Homo sapiens: one gene and its partners. The protein of the gene in region 2 purifies or fractionates together with the protein of the main gene of each other region. This does not show direct contact. Each region holds a gene or a part of one and is shown on either strand. Other genes may lie near its edges. The genes, in order: OGFOD1, TPRN, QRICH1 and PPP1R2.

Evidence for each region.
Region 1: the proteins of TPRN (region 2) and OGFOD1 purify together in Homo sapiens (affinity purification with mass spectrometry; one large-scale study listed by BioGRID and IntAct). This does not show direct contact.
Region 3: the proteins of TPRN (region 2) and QRICH1 purify together in Homo sapiens (affinity purification with mass spectrometry; one large-scale study listed by BioGRID and IntAct). This does not show direct contact.
Region 4: the proteins of TPRN (region 2) and PPP1R2 purify together in Homo sapiens (affinity purification with mass spectrometry; one large-scale study listed by BioGRID and IntAct). This does not show direct contact.

Annotation. Positions count from the first base shown.
Region 1 is NC_000016.10:56,454,554-56,458,053, reverse strand, and holds part of OGFOD1 (prolyl 3-hydroxylase OGFOD1), read right to left. Parts: intron 1-3,500.
Region 2 is NC_000009.12:137,193,006-137,199,147, reverse strand, and holds part of TPRN (taperin), read left to right. Parts: coding exon 1-161; intron 162-6,142. UniProt on the Homo sapiens protein: Essential for hearing. Required for maintenance of stereocilia on both inner and outer hair cells. Necessary for the integrity of the stereociliary rootlet.
Region 3 is NC_000003.12:49,082,804-49,089,134, reverse strand, and holds part of QRICH1 (transcriptional regulator QRICH1), read left to right. Parts: intron 1-6,331. UniProt on the Homo sapiens protein: Transcriptional regulator that acts as a mediator of the integrated stress response (ISR) through transcriptional control of protein homeostasis under conditions of ER stress.
Region 4 is NC_000003.12:195,524,711-195,531,041, forward strand, and holds part of PPP1R2 (protein phosphatase inhibitor 2), read right to left. Parts: intron 5,192-6,331; coding exon 5,084-5,191; intron 3,193-5,083; coding exon of another isoform or gene 3,048-3,192; intron 187-3,047; coding exon 109-186; intron 1-108. UniProt on the Homo sapiens protein: Inhibitor of protein-phosphatase 1.

The DNA of each region.
Region 1 (3,500 bases), on a different chromosome or scaffold from region 2:
GGCCTATTCCAGCTATTGCAAGAGCAGAGAGGGAGAGGGAGGGCAGTAGGAGATGAGGCCAAAAAGGTAATAGTGGGGCCGGGCACGGTGGCTCATGCCTGTAATCCCAGAACTTTGGGAGGCCGAGGCGGGCAGATCATGAGGTCAGGAGTTCGAGACCAGCCTGACCAACGTGGTGAAACCCTGTCTCTACTAAAAATACAAAAATTAGCCAGGCGTGGTGGTGCATGCCTGCAATTCCAGCTACTCGGGAGGCTGAGGCAGGAGAATCATTTTAACCTGGAGGCGGAGGTTGCAGTGAGCTGAGATCTCGCCATTGCACTCCAGCCTGGGCAACAAGAGCAAAACTCCGTCTAAAAAAAAAACCTAATAGGTGACTTAAAGCCATTTTAAGTACTTTGGCTTTGACTTAAAGAAATGAGAAGATTTCTGAAGCAAAAAAAAGAAAAAAAAAGTCATTGGAGTTTTTGAGAACATTTTTTAAGATAATATCCACATAACACAATTATCCACATAATTTCAATTTCTTGAAAGTGTATAATTCATTGGATTTTAGTATATTCACAATGTTGGGCGATCATCAGCACTTCCTAATTTCAGAACTTTTTAACACTCCAAATAGAAACCCTTGTGCCAATTTTGTTAGTCATTCCCTCTTCTCTCCTCCCCCCAGCTCCTCGCAACCACTTGCCTATTCTGGACATTACATATAAATGGAATCATATAATATGTAGCCTTTTGCATCTGACTTCTTTCACTTAGCCTAATGTTTTCAAGGTTCATCCATGTTGTGGTAGTATCAGTACGTCATTCCTTTTAATGGCTGAGTTGTATTCCATTCTATGGGTATACCACATTTTGTTTATTCATTAAATTGTTTCCACTTTTTGGCAATTATAAAGCTGCTATGAACATTTGTGCACAAGTTTTTATGTGAACATATTTTTACATATTTTTAATTATCTTGGGTCTATTTACATTTTAAAAGAATACAATGACTTCAGTGACTGTCTAAGCAGGTGACAGTAGAAGGGAAAATGGTTGATACACTAATAGAATAATCCCGGGGAGACACAGATAGCTTGAACCAGGTGTTGGCCTTTGGCAGTGGAAGTAGTAAGAAGTGGGCTTCTCTGGATATACAGTGGTATGTCATTTACACTCTGAGAAATTTATTGTTAGGTGATTTCATTGTTGTTTCAGCATCATCGAGTGCATTTACATAAATCTAGATGGTAGAACTTAATATATACCTAGGCTATATGGTATAGCCTATTGTTTACAGGCCACGAACAACCTGGCATTTTACTCTACTGAATACTATAGACAATACAATAGGAAGTATTTGTGTATCTAAACATATCTAAATATAGAAAAGGTATAGTAAAAATAGGTGTTACTTTATGGGACCACTATCGTATCTGTTGCTGACAGAAAATATCATGTGGCGATTGCCTGTATTTTGAAGGTAGAGATAGCAGAGTTTCACGATGGACTGGATATAAGGTGAGAGAGGAATCAAGGATGACCTCCTTTTTGGCCTGAGCCCTCGGAAAGATCAAGCTGATATTAACTGTGATGGGGAAAACTGCAGGTGGAGCAGATTTAGAGGGAGAAGACCAGAAGTTTAGTTTTGAACTTAAGTGTCAGAAACTCATTAGACATCAAAGAGGAGGCAAAGCCATGAGACCCAATAGAAGCCTGTGTACCTAGGGAAGGAGGCCAAGCATTAGGATGCAGAATACTCTATCATTAAGAAGTCAGGTGGAAGAGGAAAACCTAGCAAAGGAAGCTGGTAAGAAATAGCCACTGAGGAAGAAGAGAAACCAAGAGAGCATGGTAACCTGAAAGTAAAGTGAAAAAAAAGTCTCCAGGAGGAAGGAGTGATATAGTAGGTCAAATGCTGCTGATGAGACAAGGAAGAACTGAAAACTGATTATCAGATTTAGTAATGTGGAGGTTATGGGTGATCTTGACAAGTGTAGTTTCAGTGCAGTAGTACAAGCGAAAGCCTGATTAAAATGGGCTTACCAGAGACTGACAGGAGAGGAACTGGACACAGTGCAGACAACTCTTATAAGAATAAAATTCTGCTGTCAAGAGAAGCACAGCAATGGGATGGTAGCTGAAGGGAAACTTAGGTCAAGAACTTTGTTTTTTTCTTATGAAAAGAACAGTTTTTTTTTTCTTTTTGTTATGTTGAAGGGAATGATCCAGAGAGAAAGAAAAACTAATGTAGTTTCCTCAACTGTGAAACAGGTATAGTAATGGGATTGTTTTGAGGATTTAATGAATAAATATAAAGCACTTAGCATGGCATAAAGTATGCACTCAATAATGCTTGCTTTAAAAAATACAGAATACTGGGCAAGTCCTAATGACAGAGTTGGTTATGGGAGTTGGAAGATGTCAGAGACCCAATTATCAAGTCAATTCATACCACAAGCAAAGAAAAGAGCATGGATGAGGATTAAAGGAGCAGGAGAATGAAACCAGATTTTACATCTACTGTCTTAGGGTGAAGAGTTCCTGTCCAAAAGGGATCAACAGTAAAAATTATTCACAGTAGAGTTTCACCAAACTTCCATGTGGATCCAAAGTAATGGCAGCTCCTTTTTTTTTTTCAATCACCCAAGGCTCTTTTTATTATTTTGCCTTATATCTTCCAGTTTTGTTTTTTTTTTTTTGAGGTGGAGTCTCACTTTGTCACCCAGGCTGGAGTACAGTGGCGCGATCTCAGCTCACTGCAACCTCCACCGCCTGGGTTCAAGCGATTCTCCTGCCTCAGCCTTCCGAGTAGCTGGGATTATAGGGGCGTGCCACCACGCCTGGCTAATTTTTTGTATTTTTAGTAGATACGGGGTTTCACTGTGTTAGCCAGGATGGTCTCCATCTCCTGACCTTGTGATCTGCCCGCCTCAGCCTCCCAAAGTGCTGGGATTACAGGCATGAGCCACTGTGCCCGGCCATCTTCCAGTATTTTTAATCTTCCAAATTGCATGAAGTAAAAATTATTGTGATGTTTCAATTTTAATAATCAGATGCGTATGGCCCCAAATCAACAAGAGGCCAAGGGTGCGATAATCACAACAGCAGGTAACTGCGGTTTTTAATTAACCTGTGCAACCTTACCATGGAAAGCAGTTTAGTTTTCAGCTTTCTGAATTATTAAGAGTCATATCTTTCATGTATTTATCCTGGTTAATTCAGTCATGTGTATAAGGTCCAAAGACAGAAAGATCTGGGGAAGGTCAGGATACAACCATCTGACCAATCAGCTCTAGTGTAAAAGAATAAGAGAGAGAAATTCGTTATTTACTCTCTTATCCCAGATAAAATAAAATGGGAAAATGCAAAAAAAAAAATTATTCTTCATCTTTTTAATCTTTCTTTTTTTTTTCCCCCCCCAATTTGAAGCACAGATGTCCCTGAGGTTTACAAAGGATTCATGTACTGAAAGATATACCCCCAAACTGGGGAAACCAATGACCTGTATTTCT
Region 2 (6,142 bases):
GGGAGCCTCGGCCACGGGAGGCCGAGGAGGAGGAGGCTAGTTGCCTCCTGGGGCCCACGTTGAAGAAGCGCTACCCCACCGTGCATGAGATCGAGGTGATTGGCGGCTACCTGGCCCTGCAGAAGTCCTGCCTCACCAAGGCTGGCTCCTCAAGAAAGAAGGTCAGTGGTGGGGGCAGGGCCACTGGCTGGCAGGGAGAGAGTGACAGCTCACAGAACTGTGGGGGCAGCACCTGCCCTGATCCCAGGACGCTTGGCCTGGGCAAAGGATGGTTTCTACATGGACTTGAGGCGAGCTGGGGCTGGGTGGGCCGTGCTGGGTCCAGGGCCCCAGTGGAGCCCCCTGACTTGGGCCGTGGGGACAGCTGGCCTGCTGTGTGCCTTGCCAGGCTGCTGGAGAGCGACAGGGCAGACAGTGCTATGTCCCTTGCCAGTTGTTGTGGCTCATCTGGAATTAGCTGGGCGGGTCTGTCCCTTTGTGAGTCCAGCTGAAAGAAGCAGACCTGGGCTTGTGGGTTCCTCCCTGGGCTTGGCTTTGAGGGGTGGCCTCACATGGTCTCCTGGAGGCCCGCTGCATGGGCGCCAGGCGCCACGCTATGAATGGGAAGGGCCAGATGATCGGGGTTGGCTGGATCCTCGCATCACAGTCAGCCTTGGGGTGCAGCCCACCAGCCAGTTGGGAGAGGGCCATCAGCTCCCCAGAAGGCACACTGGTTGGGAGCTGGGCAGGAGTGCCGTGTATGCCTGTTCTGGGCCTGGGAAGCTTGCTGGGGAGAAGGGGCCTTCGGAGGCTCTGAGCCAGCCAGGCAGGGGAGTCTCCCTCTTGGCCAGTGGCCTGGAATCCTCTGGGCACAGGAAAAAAAATCTTCAGATTCTTTCTGGTAATTCCTGCACCTGTATTTGTTCCCTGGGGCAAATTCCAAGGGCAGCTCCATGTGACTTCCCGGTCTGCGGTGACCTGTCAGGAAGCAGGTGTACCTTTCCTGGGGACTGAGGGGGGGCGCCTGGGGCGCCTCCCTTGGGTCTTCCTATCCAGGCACTGCCCCAGAGCCATTGCTGGCTAGGCTCACCCCTGAGGCGGGCTGTCCTCCAGCCTCAGTTTCCCCAGGCTGGGGATGGGACCTTGCAGGCTCCCTCAGCAGATAGGCTGCTGCCTCCCTCTGTTTGCTTCCTGCCCGGGATTGGCCTTGGCATTGCGCCTCTCCCTGTGCCATACTCCCCTCCTGGAACCAGGGCGTTGGTGCCCCTGCCGGCTCTATCTGCCGGCCCAGGCATCCGTGCTAACCCTCCTGAGGTGCTTCCAGTGGGGGCTTGGGGCTGGGTCCAGGGCCCCTCCCACTCCTGGAGCCACGTGGGTCTATCTCCCCGACCCTCGCCCGAGCATCACCCCAGCCCATCAAGGTGGGGTCAGTCTGATAGCCACAGCCTCTCTCCTCCAGCTCCTGTCTGCCTCTCCCTCCCCTGCGTCTGTACCTTTGGCCCTGGCTGCTGTGTGAGGTGGGCACCTCCTGGGCTTGCCCCAGAGGTGGCAGTGGGGACAGCTCCCCCTTTGTAGAGAGAAACTGCGCCTCAGCTTGGGAGTCAGACGGGGTCATGGGGCTTGTGGGGCGAGTACGGAGTTCAGGTTTCTGTTTCTAGAACCCCTCCCCTTAACCTGTGTGGCCATCCCTGGGAGCCTGGCTTCTTCCTGGGACTTGAGGCCACTGCCTAGAGTCTGGCCATCTTGCCCTCAGAAGGGACAGAACTGGGCTGGGCGCGGTGGCTCACACCTTGTAATCCCAGCACTTTGGGAGGCCGAGGCGGGTGGATCACGAGGTCAGGAGTTCAAGACAAGCCTTGCCAAGGTGGTGAAACCCCGTCTCTACTAAGAAGATATAAAAAAATTAGCTGGGCGTGGTGGCGGGCGCCTATAATCCCAGCTATTCAGGAGACTGAGGCAGGAGAATTGCTTGAACCCGGGAGGCGGAGCTTGCAGTGAGCCGAGATCGCGCCATTGCACTCCAGCCTGGGCGACAGAGTGAGACTCTGTCTCAAAAAGAAAAAAGCAAAGAAGGGACAGAACTGTGGGGGTCATTTGCGGCTGGGTTAGGGTCAGAAGGGCAGGGTGGGGGCCGGAGGGCCAACAGGAGCAGGAAGATGCAGTGGGGGAGAGGCTGAGCCTGGGAAACAGGCCCTGGACCAGCAGGAGGGAGGAGCTCGGGCCAGCCTGAAGGGGTGGGGGTCCAGATGGACGATACCTGGCATGGCCAGGTGGCCCGGGCAGGGCCCTGCCAGAGCAGCATGACCTGCTGGCTGTGACTTCCCGCCTGGGTACAGGCCAGCTGCCCTGCCTGGGAAGAGCCAGAATGTCCATCAGGAGGGGACAGAGGCGTGGGGCTGCCCTGCCTTTCAGAATGGCTTGCTGGCCTCGGCACGGTGGGCTGTGGGGCAGGGCTGTCCCATGTACTCTGTGGCCCCTGGGCCAGGAGCACTCACTGGTGGGGGTGCGAGGTGCCCCTGCGGGTCCTGTGCCTGGCCTTGTCTGACCACCCTGGCCAGCCTTTTTTTATTTTTTGTTTTTTGAGACAGAGTCTTGCTCTGTCGCCCAGGCTGGAGGGTAGTGGCAGGATCCCGGCTCAGGGCAAACTTCATCTCCCAGGGTTCAAGCGATTCTCCTGCCTCAGCCTCTCAAGTAGCTGGGATTACAGGCGCCTGCCACCATGCCCAGCTAATTATCGTATTTTTAGTAGAGACGAGGTTTTACCATATTGGCCAGGTTGGTCTCGAACTCCTGACCTCAGATGATCCGCCTGCCTTAGCCTCCCAAAGTGCTGGGATTACAGGCGTGAGCCACCGTGCTGACCCCAGCCTTTGGTTGGGACCACTGGCTGTGACCCCCGGGCGTGGGGGTGGAGTGCAGGGATTGCAGGGCCCGGAGTCTAGCAGGACCTGACTGTGGGCCAACGGCTCACTGTGCACCTCAGCGGCTGGCGGTGCTGCTGCTTTTCCTGGGGTACAGGTGAAGGGCAGCTCTTCAGTGGAGTTGTCTGGGTGGTGGGAGTCGGTGAGGGGCCTGCCCCAGGGCTGGCTGTGCCTGCACAGGGTATGATACCCTTGCCCGCCTCCGAGGGGTGCAGCCCTGCTCTGGGCAGTGGGGAGCTGCTGGCCTGTGTGCCGGGGTGGGGGCCTGCCTGGCAGGCACAGGCCCACTTAAGTTATCCATTGGCAGAAGCGGCAGGTGCCCCGTCTTGCAGGGCTGAGCTTGGAGCAGACTGCTGTGTGCTGCAGCCACGCCCGGGCTGCTTTCCTGGAGGGTGGGACACCCATTCTCATCCTCACACCTGCCTCCCTTGAGACTCGGCGCTGTAGCTTTTCCTCTTCGTGGAGCACCACCTGGCCTGGCTCCTACCTGTCTGGCGGCCCCTTCCCGTCCCCTCTGCCCTACTCCCCTCCTCCCCTCTTGGCTCTCTGCCCAGCTGGAGCGTGTCAGTGTCCCCAGGGCTCAGTCCTGGACACCCAGGGCCGTCCGCCCTCACCTGCTGTGCAACTTCCGCCTCCACTCCCAAGGCCTCGCTCTCTGATCCTTAGACCCAAGAGCCACCCTGACATCTGCCCTTCCTACTGACACCACCTCCTGGCCAGCACCAAGCCCCAGGCTGGGCTCCTCCCTGCCTCTACCCCTGTGCAGGCAGATCCTGGGTGGCCAGAGGCTCTCACTGTTGTTGGCTGAGTCCCTTCTTGTCAGTTTTCCTTTCCTTCTCGTCTCTCCGCCAGCTCTTCCCATAGGTGCCGCCTAGGTGGTCCTTCTGAAGCCGGGAACCCCAGGAGCGGCCTGGACGCTCCTCCCTCAGCTTTCTCATGGGTGGAGGCCGTGCCTGGCGCTGGGGCCACACTTGACTCAGGGAGCACCCAGCTTCCCGGGAGCCTGCTCTGGGCATTGCACTCGTGCAGCCTGGTCTAGGGTCCGGCCACCCGTGGGAGCCTTGGCTGGGGCTGCGTGGGGGATGGGAGGCAGGTAGCTGTGTGCAGGGAGGAGGGAGAGGCGGGGCTGGGCTCAGCTCACACCTCCATCTGGGCAGGTTGGGGCTGGCTGCTTGGCCCTTTGTCCCAGGTGGAGGCCAGGCCCTTTGGTAACCAAAGCTAGGTGTGCACAGGCAGGGTGGGTGGAGCGAGAACAGAAGGGTCCTGAGAAGCCGGGAGGCTCTGCTGGGAGGCTGGGCTGAGCTGGGACCCACCTGCCTGCTCTGTTGGCTGTGCCAGGCAAAGTCCCTGATAGGCTGCGGCCAGGTGCGTGCGGTCCCAGACCCTGGCCACACCCTCTGCCCATCCTGCGTCTCGGGGTCTTCAGGCTGCCCACCGTATGAGTCACGGGGTGTCCTGTCCCCACAGTGGGAGGGGAGGGCTGTGCGAGTCAGCAGGCACCAGCCCAGCTGAGGAGACCTGGGGAGGCAGGACGTGACCAGAGCCCCGGGCCCCAGCTGAGGGCAGACAGGGGCTGCCTGTCCACCCCCCGCCCCGCACCGCCTGGCCAGGCTGTACCAGGCTCAGGGCCCATGTGCACCCAGCCCCCGCGGCCCCCCTGCTGGGACCGGTCATGTGCACGAGTGAGGGCACTAATCCCGCGGCCCTGGCAGCCAGCCCTTCTGTGTTCTCAGCCGTGGGGGCTGGGCCTGGAGGGCTTCGGGGTCATCTGGGTTAGCTCCACATATCCAGGGCGACTGGAAACCCCATTTGCTGCTGGACTTCGGGGCTGTGGGAGAGCTCTAGCCACCAGCCCTGTCCTGCCTTGAGCACCTCCACCTGGGGTATCTGTCCCAAAGCATGAGTCTGGGAGGGCCGGGTGACCCCCTCCCCAAGTGGGCTGGCAGTGGGTGGGTGCCTGTGAGGTCTGTCCCAGCCTCTCCCTGCCTGGCCTCCTGTGGGATGAGCGTTGGAGGGCCAGGTGGGCCTAGCCACAGGCAGGGCAGTTAAGGGACAGGAGCGGGTGCTTTCCTCCTTGTTTTGTCTGGCCCAGGTGGCCTCCCCCTCCCCCGCTCATCCATGCAGACGGCTGGGGTGCCGGGGCCTGGGGTAGGGGTGCAAGCAGGCAGCTGAGTTGCCCAGCAGGGCTCTGTGTGAGCTGTGCTGAGAGGGGAAGCTGGGGGTTTGGGCACAAAGCGTGGCCCCCCAGCTGTGGGAGGCGGGGGTATTCGTGGTGAGAAGGGACCTGAGGGTACACCTGGCTGTGTGGGCCGTGTGGCCGCTGTGGGAGAGAGCATGATGGCAAGAGTGTGTGCCCTTGGCCCTGTCCTGGCAGCCCTGTGTGGCCTCCTCGGCTGCCTCCTGAGAGGCCGTCTCGTCCTGTGCCTGGCTGCGGTGGTTCTCTGCCTGGGGCCCGGCTCCTGCCTCCGGGTCCTTCTAGGGGAGGAGGAGGAACTTGAGCTGCTGGTGTCCTGTGCCCAGGAAGAGTTTAATATTTCGAGCTCCCTCAGGGCTGCTTCCATCTGCTGCAAGCGGGGGCCGCTCATATTCATTAGGGACCACTGGGGCCGGGCTGAGTGCAGCTGAGCAGTGGGAGCTCGGCTGTTGTGGGGAGCTTAGCCCCATGCAAGCCCCGTTCAGGGGAGGTGGAGAGTCCTGACCATTGGTCCCCACTGCCCCCATTACCCCTGGGAACCAGCAGCCCTGCCTGGGCTTCAAGGCCACTGGGAGAAGGAAAGAATTTGCTCAGATGTGAAATCTTGCAGCCTACGAAGTGGGGATGGAGGACGAGGGCCAGAGGGGCAGCAGGGTGAGGAAGGGGTCACTGCTGGGGTTGCTGGCACCCAGGCTCAGTGGAGGCAGCCCCCTACTCTGCACAGCCGCAGGCCAACTCTCAACTATGTTAGGTGGGTGATGGTGCCTGAGGCTACTGCCTGGCCTTGACGGCTCACAGAGGCCCCTGTTCACAGTGGGGGGTCCATGCTCTGCTGGATTGTCCAGGCATCCAGTAAGCCAGGACATGAACTTGGCTTTAGAGAGAGGCCCCAGACACCAGCAGGAGCTGCCTGGAGCCTAGAGTGCAAGGCCCCTGAGGGGACAGCCTCTTTTCCACCCTGTTCCTGCTCTAGAGCTGCTTGGTGGGAGGGGATGTGTCCACCCCAGTTTCCCCCCAGCTGGCACTCTGCCCAGACAGCAGAGCAGGA
Region 3 (6,331 bases), on a different chromosome or scaffold from region 2:
GAACTGAGAGGGCACCATTGCACTCCAAGCTGGGGGACAGAGCGAGACTCCATTTAAAAAAAAAAAAAGAAAAGAAAAAAAGAAAATAGAACCGTGATGAAAATGCCCCTAAACCAGGGACTCCTCTGGCATGGGGCATATAAATGGCCTAATGGGATAACTTCTATCACAAACCCTGCAGTTGGCTAGTATCCTTAAAAATCGAAATATGGGTGGAACACAGTGCCTCATGCCTGTAATCCCAGCAGTTTGGGAGGCCAAGGTGGGAGGATTGCTTGAGCCCCGGAGTTGGAGACCAGCCTGGGCAAGATGGCAAGACCCCATTTCTACAGAAAAATAAAAATAGCTGGATGTGGTAGCATGGACCTGTAGTCCCAGCTACTCGGGAGGCAGAGGCAGGAGGATTGTTTGAGCCCAGGAGTGTGAGGCTGCAGGGATCTATGAATGCACCACTGCATTTTATCCTGGGTAGTGGAGCAAGACCTTGTCTCATTAAAAAAAAAAAAAAAAAAAAAACAGACAAAAGCCTGGTGCAGTGGCTCAGGCATGTAATCCCAGCACTTTGGGAGGTCGAGGGGGGCCGTGGAAATGAACTCCTCACCTGAGGTCAGGAGTTCGAGAACAGCCTGGCCAATATGGTGAAACCCCGATTCTACTAAAAATACAAAAAAATTAGCTGGGCTGGGTGGCGTGCGCCTGTAGTTCAAGCTACTAGGGAGGCTTGAGGCAGGAGAACCACTTGAACCTGGGAAACGGAGGTTGCATTGAGCCGAGATGATGCCATTGCACTCCATCCTGGGTGAGAAAACGAGACTTCGTCTCAAAAAAATAAAAATACAAAGAAACAAAACCCAGGCAAAAGAATAGAAATACGTCAATTCTGGTCGGGCACGGTGGCTCACGCCTGTAATCCCACCACTTTGGGAGGCCGAGGCGGGCAGATCATGAGGTCAGGAGATCGAGAGCATCCTGGCTAGCACGGTGAAACTTTCTCTCTACTAAAAAATACAAAAAAATTAGCTGGATGTGGTGGCGGGCGCCTGTGGTCCCAGCTACTTGGGAGGCTGAGGCAGGAGACTGGCGTGAACCCGGGAGACAGAGCTTGCAGTGAGCCGAGATTGTGCCACTGCATTCCAGCCTGGGTGACAGAGTGAGACTCTGTCTCAAAAAAAAAAAAATAAATGAAATAAAATGAATATATTCACATGGAAAAAAAATCAATTTCCATTTTAAGGAGTCATGTCTGTCTTATAAACATATGGAGTTATTTCAAAGAAGCATAGAAGACATTGTTCTTTTTTTTTTTTTTTTTTTTTGAGATGAACCTCCGCCTCCTGAGTTCAAGCAATTCTTCTGCCTCAGCCTCCCGAGTAGCTGGGACTACAGGCGCATGGTACCCCGCCTGGCTAATTTTTGTATTTTTAGTAGAGATGGGGTTTCACCATGTTGGCCAGGCTGGTCTTGAACTCCTGACCTCGTGATATGCCCGACTCGGCCTTCCAGCGTGCTAGGATTACAGGCATGAGCCACTGCACCTGGCCTATTTTTTTATTTTTATTTTTTTTAAATTTATTTTTCTTATTATTTTTTGAGATGGAGTCTTGCTCTGTTGCCCAGGCTGGAGTGCAGTGGTGCGATCGTGGCTCACTGCAACCTTCGCCTCCCGGGTTCAAGTAATTCTCCTGCCTCAGCTTCCCTAGTAGCTGGGACTACAGGCACCACACCTGGCTAATTTTTGTATTTTTAGTAGAGACAGGGTTTCACCATATTAGCTAGGCTGGTCTCAAACTCCTTGTGATCTGCCTGCCTCAGCCTCCCAAACTGCTGGGATTATAGGCGTGAGCCACTGTGCCTGGCCTATTTTATTTTATTTTTTTGAGACAGAGTTTTGCTCTTGTTGCCCGGGCTGGAGTGCAGTGGCGCGATCTCGGCTCACTGCAACCTCCGGCTGCTGGGTGCAAGTGATTCTCCTGCCTCAGCCTCCCGAGTAGCTGAGGTTACAGGTGCCCACCACCACGCCTGGCTAATTTTTGTGTTTTTGGTAGAGATGGGATTTCACCACGTTGGCCAGACTGGTCTTGAACTCCCAACCTCAGGTGATCCGCCCACCTCAGCCTCCCAAAGTGCTGGGGATTACAGGCGTGAGCCACTGCACCGGGCCCCATATGAATGTATTCAAACTGGACTAAGCTATGAAGAGCCATTGTTGGAGTAGATGTGAACCTTGAGGGGCCTCAAAGCCCAAGGAAGAGGTAAGGTTCTGAGGCAGTTCAGACTTCTTTTAGTCCATCACGGATTGAAGACTCACTCTGCAGAGCCATACAGGGGGCCCAAAAGAGGTATCAGGGATAAGAAACCCAAGAAACAGTGATTGCAATAAGATCTTCCCTTGGTACCTAAACGGAAAAAAGAAAAAAATTAGCAAACAGACCTATAGAAATGTAATAGATTGTTGTTTTGGAGTAACCTTTGTCCATGGTACCATCTTATGTTCTAATAATAAAATAATAAAAATAATAACTCATGTAGTGAAGAATTGCTGTGCATCAGGCACTATGCTAAGCTCCAGTAGGAGGAAATACAGAGGAGCCAGGCGCAGTGGCTCACACCTGTAATCCCAGTTTTGGGAGGCTGAGGATCACGAGGTCAGGAGATCGAGACCATCCTGGCTAACACGGCGAAACCCCGTCTCTACTAAAAATACAAAAAAATTAGCCGGGCGTGGTGGTGGGTGCCTGTAGTCCCAGCTACTTGGGAGGCTGAGGCAGGAGAATGGTGTGAATCCAGGAGGTGGAGCTTACAGTGAGCCGAGATCGCACCATTGCACTCCAGCCTGGGCGACAGAGTGAGACTCCATCTCAAAAAAAAAAAAAGAAAAAGAAAAAGAGGGAGATACAGAGGAGATACCAGTGAACAATTTGATTTTATACCAGCAAAAATGTCCAGGGTCTGTTTAAGGGAGGGCTGGCTTTCCTTTATTGTTACTTATTTTTTTTTTTTTACAATGCAGCTATATTTAAAAGCGTTTAGAAGTAAATGCTTGTTTACAGACCTCATACACCCCAAGAGCATTAGAGTATTTTCTTTTTTCATTATTAGTCTCATCAGAGTCCCAGAAATTGGGAACACTCAGATATCCTCATGGCTGCATGTTTTTCAGAAATACTTTAATTAATTTCTTTATTGCTTCTTACTAAGTCTTTTACTTGGAGCTAATTAAGAATCTTTTGTCTCTTTTAGAAGTTTCTCCATTTCTCTTTATTACGAAGGCTCAACTTTTGTGTCTTATGTGCAGCATCTTGAAGTTAAGTCTTCATTATTTTGTACAAGTTTTTGGTATTTTATGGTTTAGTTTCTTTTTCTTTTTTTTTTTTTTGAGATGGAGTTTTGCCCTTGTTGCCCAGGCCGGAGTGCAGTGGCATGGTCTTGGCTCACTGCAACCTCCACCTCCCAGGTTCAAGCGATTCTCCTGTCTCAGCCTTCCGAGTAGCTGGGATTACAGGCACGTGTCACCACACCTGGCTAATTTTTTTTGTATTTTTAGTAGAGGCGGGGTTTCATCATGTTGGTCAGGCTGGTCTCAAACTACTGACCTCAGGTGATCCACCCACCTCGGCCTCCCAAAGTGCTGGGATTACAGGTATGAGCCACCTCGTTCGGCAGGTTTAGTTTCTTTCAGATTTTGAAAGAAAATCGTACTATGATCAACCAGAATTACGTGTCTGTTACCATTACTACACTATAACCACTTGTATTTTTAGTAGAGATGGGGTTTCACCGTGATAGCCAGGATGGTCTCGATCTCCTGACCTGGTGATCCGCCTGCCTCGGCCTCCCAAAATGCTGGGATTACAGGCATGAGCCACCTCTTTCGGCCGGTTTAGTTTCTTTCAGATTTTGAAAGAAAATCATACTATGATCAGCCAGAATTATGTGTCTTACCATTACTACACTATAGCCACTGTGTAGAAAAAGATGATTTTTTTTTTTTTGAGACGGAGTCTTGCTCTGTCGCCCAGGCTGGAGTGCAGTGGCACGATCTTGGCTCACTGCAAGCTCCACCTCCCAGATTCACACCATTCTCCTGCCTCAGCCTCCCGAGTAGCTGGGACTACAGGCGCCCAACACCACACCCGGCTAATTTTTTTGTATTTTTAGTAGAGACGGGGTTTCACCGTGATAGCCAGGATGGTCTCGATCTCCTGATCTGGTGATCTGCCTGCCTCGGAAAGTGCTGGGATTACAGGCGTGAGCCTTAGATTAATACCACTTGTGGAAAATTCAGAAGAGTGTTTAACAGAAGAAACTTAATTACTCTGTGGTTCCATCATCTAGGCATAACTACTGTTAGCATTCCTTTTTATCATTTTTTGAGGTGGAGTCTCACTCTTTCCCCAGGCTGAAGTGCAGTGGCGCAGTCTCAGCTCACTACAACCTCCGCCTCCCGGATTCAAGCAATTCTCCTGCCTCAGCCTCTAGAGTAGCTGGGATTACGGGTGGCTGCCACCATGCCCTGTTAGTTTTTGTATTTTTAGTGGAGATGGGGTTTCACCATGTTGGCCAGGCTGGTCTCACAATCTTGGCTGGATGTGATGGCTCACGCCTGTAATCCTAGCACTTTGGGAGACCGATGCTGTGGATCGCTTGAGGTCAGGAGTTTGAGTACATCCTGACCAACATGGCGAAATCCCGTCTCTACTAAAATACAAAAATTAGCTGGGCATGGTGGCGGGTGCCCGTAATCCCAGCCACTTTGGAGGCTGAGGCAGGAGAATTGCTTGAACCTAGGAGGCGGAGGTTTCAGTGAGCCAGGATCGTGCCACTACGCTCCAGCCTGGGCGACAGAGCAACACTGTGTCTCAATAAAAATAAAAATAAAAAAGAATTTAGGCTGGGTGTGGTTGCTCATGCCTGTAATCCCAGCACTTTGGAAGGTGGAAGCGAGTGGATTACCTGAGGTTAAGAGTTCGAGACCAGCCTGGCCAACATGGCAAAACCTCATCTCTACTAAAAATATAAAAATTAGCCGGATGTGGGCCGGGTGCGGTGGCTCATACCTGTAATCCCAGCACTTTGGGAGGCTGAGGCGGGTGGATCATGAGTTTAGGAGTTCAAGACCAGCTTGGCCAAGATGGTGAAACCCTGCCTCTACTAAAAATACAAAAATTAGCCAGGCACGGTGGCAGGTGCCTGTAATCCTAGCTACTCGGGAGGCTGAGGCAGGAGAATCGCTTGAACCTGGGGGGCACGGAGGTTGCAGTGAGCCAAGATTGTGCCTCCTGGGTTCAAGCGATTCTCCTGCCTCAGCCTCCCAAGTAGCTGGGACTACAGGTATGCAGCACCACACCTGGCTAATTTTTTTTTTTTGAGATGGAGTCTCACTCTGTCACCCAAGCTGGAGTGCAGTGGCATGATCATAGCTCATTGCAGGCTCAAACTGCTGGGATCAAGCCATCCTATCCTCCTGCCTCGGCCTCCCAAGTAGCTGGGACTACAGGCGAGAACCACCATGCCAAGCTTAGTATTGATATTTTCTAATGGTTTTATGGAATTTTTCCTACCTCAAGCTTGTTTGTCTTTTAAATTATTACTATTATTTCTAAGAGATGGGATCTCACTGTGGTGCCCAGGTTGGAGTGCTGTGGCTATCCACAGACAGGATTCTACTACTGCAGTATGGAAGTTTTGACCTGCCCCATTTCCAACCTGGGGTGGTTCACCCCTCTTTAGGCAACCTGGTGATTCCCTGCTCCCTTGAAGTCACCATATTGATGCTGAACTTAGTGTGGACACCCGATTGGCATAGAGCACTATAGCCCAGAACTCCTGGACTACTCAAGCAATCCTCCTGTTTCAGTCTCTTGAGTAGCTGGGACTGCAGGCATGCACCATCATCCCAGGCTCCCCCCCCCCCTTTTTTTTTTTTTTTTGAGACAGAGTCTCACTTTGTCGCCAGGCTGGAGTGCAATGGTGCGATCTTGGCTCACTGCAACCTCCGCCTCCCAGGTTCAAGCGATCCTCCTGCCTCAGCCTCCCAAGTAGCTGGGATTACAGGCATGCTCTACCATGCCCAACTCATTTTGTATTTTTAGTAGAGACGGGGGTTCTCCATGTTAGTCAGGCTGGTCTCGAACTCCCGACCTCAGGTTATCCACCTTCCTTGGCCCCCCAAAGTCCATAGTGCTAGGATTACAGGCGTGAGTCACCACACCTGGCCTTTTTTTCTTTTTTTTTTTTTTTGAGACGCAGTCTTGCTCTGTCGCCCAGGCTGGAGTGCAGTGGTGTGGTCTCGGCTCACTGCAAGCTCTGCCTCCCAGGTTTACGCCAGTCT
Region 4 (6,331 bases), on a different chromosome or scaffold from region 2:
AACAGCCTTTTCTTCCCGCTCATACAGGGACAGCCACGCAGGCTGCTTTCAACTCTGCACGATTATAAACAGCCTAAGTGAAAATGTGCTCCGGTCATTAGTACTTACTTCCTGGCTAAGATGTCTGGCGCCATGGCTTCAGTGGCCTCGGTGTCACTACAGGCATCTTCATCATCCCCCATCATACTAGTATGACAAGCACATTGTAATTAATACCTGAAACATACATTTTCAGCCACAAAAACAAGGGAGAAAAACAATTCCATCAACCTACTTAACATATCAATATATTTATAGCTCTGTTGATATCTTTGAGGTTTAACTTTATATAGTTCCTATTCAATACAAATACTTAAAAGTACAGCACCCAATCAAGAAAAGACTCCAAATGATTAAAAAAAACACATAAATACAGTCTGCCTGCCATATCCACAGGATCCACATCCATGAATTCAACCGTGGATTGAAAATAGCCAGAGAAAAGTAAAATTTCCTCTGTACTAAACATGTAGACTTTTTTCTTATCATTATTCCCTAAATGATACAGTGTGTAACAACTATTTGCACAGTATTTACATTTTATTAGGTAATATAACTAACACAGAGATGATTTAACACATACAGGAGGATGTGCATAATTATATACATCTACAATGCCATTTTATATCAGAGACTTGAGTGTCTGAGGATTTCGGTATCTGAGGGAGGTCCTGAAACCTCCATGGATAATGAGGAATAACTGTACTGAAAACGTAAATGATCTGGAAAAAAAAATACTACAAAGTTCCAATTATTCCATCCAGTGGGAAGGAACAAGTAATGCAAAGTAAATCACTGTCTGGTTTTAGAACATGTATTTCTACATCAATCTTAAGATAGAGACAAAAGATCTACGCAGACACAAGACTGAGTAAAGTAACAAAATTCGATCCCAAAGATCTAATTTCGGAAGTTTACAAGTGATTTAGCTTTCTCACTCTACCCTCTAATGAAAAATTTGCTCCCCACTTCAATGCAAAAATGGGCAACCTTAATTCTTAAGCCACTGCAAAGTATATAAAGCAGAACTCAGCTATTTATAAAATACTGCCAGTTTATACATTTCCTGGTTAATTAAGGTGACAAGTAAGTCTATAGTTTAGATGACGTTCTTTTTTCTAAGGGAAGTTGAAATTGATCTATGTTATTGAGTTTAATCAAGCAAAGTAAGGTAAAATAAACATTTTGTTAATTTATAGAATCGTTCTATAGAAAATTCTAGTTGTAAAATTTACTGAATTATGTTTATATATGTACATGTATACAGAAGCAATAACTTCTTGTATACTAACTGTGAGATTCTTAGATAATAAGACATGATGTTTCTATAAAAAGCATCTTCACTTAAATAAAATTTTTTTTTTTTTTGAGACAGGGTCTCATTCTGTCACCCAGGAGTACAGTGGCACCATCACGGCTCACTACAGCCTCAATTTCCCGGGCTCAAGTGATACTCCCACCTAAGCCTCTTGTGTAGCTGGGACTACAGGCATGTGCTACCATTCCTGGCTTAATTCTTTTTATTTTTTGTAGAGACGGGGTCTCTCTATGTTGCCCAGGCTCATCTCCAATTCCTGAGCTCAAGCAATCCTCCCACCTCAGCCTCCTAAAGTGCTGGGATTACAAGGATGAGCTACCATGGCTGGCCAAATGAAACTCTCAAAAAGAAAAAAGAAAGTCATGGAAAGAAATGATAAAACTGAGCAGTGAACTGATAAAAGCAGGACACAGGTTATCTCTGCATGCACATAGCCTCAATTACTTAGGGACCAAATAACTTTTCTGGTTATTTGAATGGCAAATATCTACCATTCAAATTATATTTATAAACAGTCAAAAAATAATGGCCATAGCTATTCTGAAATTTTTTTTCTTTTTCTTTAGAGATAAGGTCTCCCTCTGTCATCCAGGCTGGAGTGCAATGACGTGATCATGGCTAATTGCAGCTACAACCTCCAGGGCTCAGACAGTCCTCCTGCCTCAGCCTCCTAGCTAGCTGGGACTACAAGTACACACCACCACCTCTGGATAATTTTACTTTTTTTATTTGAGACAGAGTTTCGCTCTGGTTGCCCAGGCTGGAGTGCAATGGCGCGATCTCAGCTCACTGCAACCTCTGCCTCCCAGGTTCAAGTGATTCTCCTGCCTCAGCCTCCCGAGTAGCTGGGGTTATAGGCGCCCACCACCACATCTGGGAATTTTTATGTATTTTCAGTAGAGACGGGGTTTCACCATGTTGGCTAGGCTGGTCTTGAACTCCTGACCTTAGGTGATCCACCCGCCTCAGGCTCCCAAAGTGCTGGGATTACAGGCGTGAGCTGCTGTGCTTAGTCTAATTTGTTTTAATTTTTTTTGTGGAGATAAGAGTCTCACTCTGTTGCCCAGGTTGGTCTTGAACTCCTGGGCAAGAGTTCTTTGGGGAAGGGCGTGGTGGCTCATGCCTGTAATCCCACACTTTGGGAGGCTGAGGTGGGTGGATCACTTGAGGTCAGGAGTTTGAGATCAGCTTGGCCAACACGGTGAAACCCTGTCAATACTAAAAATACAAAAACTAGCCAGGCGTGGTAGTGGGTGCCTGTAATCCCAGCTACTTGGGAGGCTGAGGCACGAGAATCTCTTGAACCTGAGACATGGAGCTTGCAGTGAGCTGAGATCGTGCCACTGCTCTCCAGCCCGGGTGACAGAGTGAGACTCTGTCTCAAAAAAATAAAAAATAAAAAATAAAAAACAGCATTCTTTGGGAGGCTAAGCGATCCTCCTGCTTCAGGCTCCCAAAGTGCTGAGATTACAGGCGTTGAGCCACTGCACCTGGCCTCAACTATTTTTTTAAATCATGTCTGATCTTAATTCTCCTAGGATACTTATCCCCAACTAACACAAGTGAGTGACGGATGGCCACTACATTTAGTAAAAAGAAAGTACACTCTGATTTTGGATTCTGGTACAATAAAGGTTTTAATATACATTTTAGAAGTTGGGCACGGTGATGTGTGCCCATAGTCAGCTACCTGGGAGGCGGAGGAGGGAGGATCACTTGAGTCGGGAGTTCCAGGCTGTAGTGTGCTATAACTGTGCCTGTTAATAGCCACTGCACTGGGCAACATAGCCAGATCTTGTATCTTTTTTTTTTTTTAAGATTTTTAAAGTATATACCTGCAATTTAGGAGAAAAATAAGAATATAAACCTCTTTTTAGCATGCGTATTTTTTTTTAACTAATTGTAATTTTATTGTTTTTCTTCCCCTCAATTTATTTTTACTTCAATAGGTTTTTGGGAAACAAGTGGTGTTTGGTTACACAGGTAAGTTCTTCAGTGGTAATTGCTGAGATTTTGGTGCACCCATCACCCGAGCAGTGTACACGGCACCCAATGTGTAGTCTTTTATCCCTCAACCCCCTCTCACCCCTCCCATCCCCAAAGTCCACTGTATCATTCTTATGCCTTTGCTTAGCTCCCGCTTATAAGTGAGAACATACAAGGTCTGGTTTTCCATTCCTGGGTTACTTCACTTAGAGTAATGGTCTCCAACTCCATCCAGGTTGCTGTGAATGCCATTATTTTGTTCCTTTTTATATATATTCCATGGTACATACATATATACCACAAAAAACTGTGTATTTCTTCACTCAAATTTCATCAGTATTGAGTTTCAGCATCTGTACCTATTTCATTATTTCTTTTTATGCTCATCAGTCTTTAATATCTTCAAGTTTTTTATTTTTACTGTTTTTGTTAGTAACAGGTTATTTCAAATTATCTTCCAAAGTTTTCACCCACTGACTTAAAATACAGTAGTTCTTAACTCTTCTTTCACTACAGAACAAATGGAAACAGCAGTTACCTCTATTTTAATGGTAACTTTTGGATTTATGCTGTCTTAATTCAATGACAAAATATTTTAATCTTGGAAATCTTTTATTTTTTTCAATACAAGGTAGGTAGGGCATAACTATTTTTTTTTTTTTTTTTTTTTTTTTTTTTTGTAGAAAGAGTCTTACTATGTTGCTTAGGCTGGTTTTGATCTCCTGGCCTGAAGCAATACTCCCACCTCTGCCTCTGTAATCTCAAAGTGCTGGGAGTACAGGCAAGAGTCACCATGCCCAGCCAAGGTATTATCTTTTTTTTTTTTTTTTGAGACAGAGTTTTGCTCTTGTCGCCCAGGCTGGAGTGCAATGGTGTGATCTTGGCTTACAGCAACCTCCGTCTCCCGGGTTCAAGCAATTCTCCTGCCTCAGCCTCCCGAGTAGCTGGGATTACAGGTGCCCGCCACCATGCCTGGCTAATTTTTGTATTTTTTTTTTTTTTTAGTAGAGATGGGGTTTCACCACGTTGGCCGGGCTGGTCTTTCACCTCAGGTGATCCGCCCACTTTGGCCTCCCAAGGTGCTGGGATTACAGGCGTGAGCCACAGTGCTCGGCCCAAGGTATTATCTTAATTAGGTATCTATACCTATTTAGAATCCTCATCTTCTCATAATGCTTCTTGCATTATTTTTGTCTTCATACTGGTTACTGCTGCGTAATGTAATTTCACAATTCATTTAGGAAATTCTGAGACTTGAAATTGTCAAAAATTACATGTAATGATCTGAACAACAATATTACATTAAGTTAAAAAATGAAGACATAAACAGTAATAATGACACCTATCTTTCAGTGGGTTACCATCCATGCAGTTATGCTTCTCTGCAAAGAGACTGAGTAAACCCCAGATTTCTACTTGGGAAGCAAACAAGCCCATATCTCATCTTCCTTTCATGGAAGTTAAAACTAATATATGCACCATTAGTAGCTAGCAACCACTGAGGTGCAACAAATAAACATTTACTACTACCATTATAATGTACAAAATGGCTTTCTTAATTTTAAACTTACACATCACTTAAACCATTACTAAACAAATTGCAGTTAGGTTACTGACTTCACTAGTGCTCCAGTAACAAATCTACAATAAAACAAATTCAAATAGGCTGTTATCCAGACGTTCATATGAAATGCAAAATGGAAGTAAGTCACAAGAGGAATGACGTCTACGTAACATTACCTATGGTAAGGAGTGCTTGGTTCATCTATTTTCATTAAACCATAGTCTTTGTCTGCTGGATGATACGTCGCCAAGATGTTCATTTCATCCCACTTCTGGGATTTTTTGCTAAAATTAAAAAGAAAAAACGTTTTTCCCAATGCAGAAAAAGATAAACCTGAATATCAAAATTCACAAATGTCCAAATTTAACATTTCAACTTCTATTTGATGGCCAACCTCTATTTTCACATATACTTTCTTGGAATAGAAGCTGACTCAGGGTAAAAACCATTAAGTAACTACAATAAAATGTCAGTAAATATAGAACACCTAGTGCCCACATATTAAAAACACAATATTTAGTATCTATATCAGGCATTCAAAACATTACCATACTATGACATGCTTAGCCTTCATTTGGCCTATAAAATAATGCAAGTCAAAATCTATACATTCGCTGAAGTCAGTAGGCATTTTTGATCTATATATCAGTAACTGTTCGGTAAAAAACACAACAGGAGTACTTCCTTGGCATAATTTCTTTCTGGGATATCTGTTAACACTCAGAACATAAAGATTCAAACAATAAAACTATAGAGAAAACCTCATCAAACTCAGACACCACTAAATCATTAGATTGCAAATAAATTACAGCTCTGTTTATTTCTAATCTAGAAAAATAAAGGTTTGCTCAGAAATGGTGTATTCAAACCTACTTGAAGAGCAATAGACGTTCTCTCTAAGTACTTTATTATTTTTGTTTTGTTTTGAGACGGAGTCTCACTCTGTTGCCCAGGCTGGAGTACAGTGGCGCCATCTCGGCTCACTGCAACTTCCACCTTCCCTGTTCATGCGCTTCCCCTGTCTCAGCCTCCCGAGTAGCTGGGATGACAGGCGCGCACCACCACGCCCAGCTAATTTTTGTATTTTTAGGAGAGACAGGGTTTCACCATGTTGGCCAGGCTGGTCTTGAACTCCTGATCTCGTGATCTGCCTGCCTTGGCCTCCCAAAGTGCTGGGATTACAGGTGTGAGCCACCAGGCCGGGCCATTATTTTTGTTTTTTGAGACAGAGTTTTGCTCTTGTCGCCCAGGCTGGAGTGCAATGGCACGATCTCGGCTCACTGCAACCTCTGCCTCCTGGGTTCAAGCGATTCTCCTGCCTCAGCCTCCTGAGTAGCTGGGATTAAAGGTGTCTGCCACCACACCTGGCTAATTTTTGTATTTTTGGTAGAGACGGGGTTTCACCATGTTGGCCAGGCTGGTCT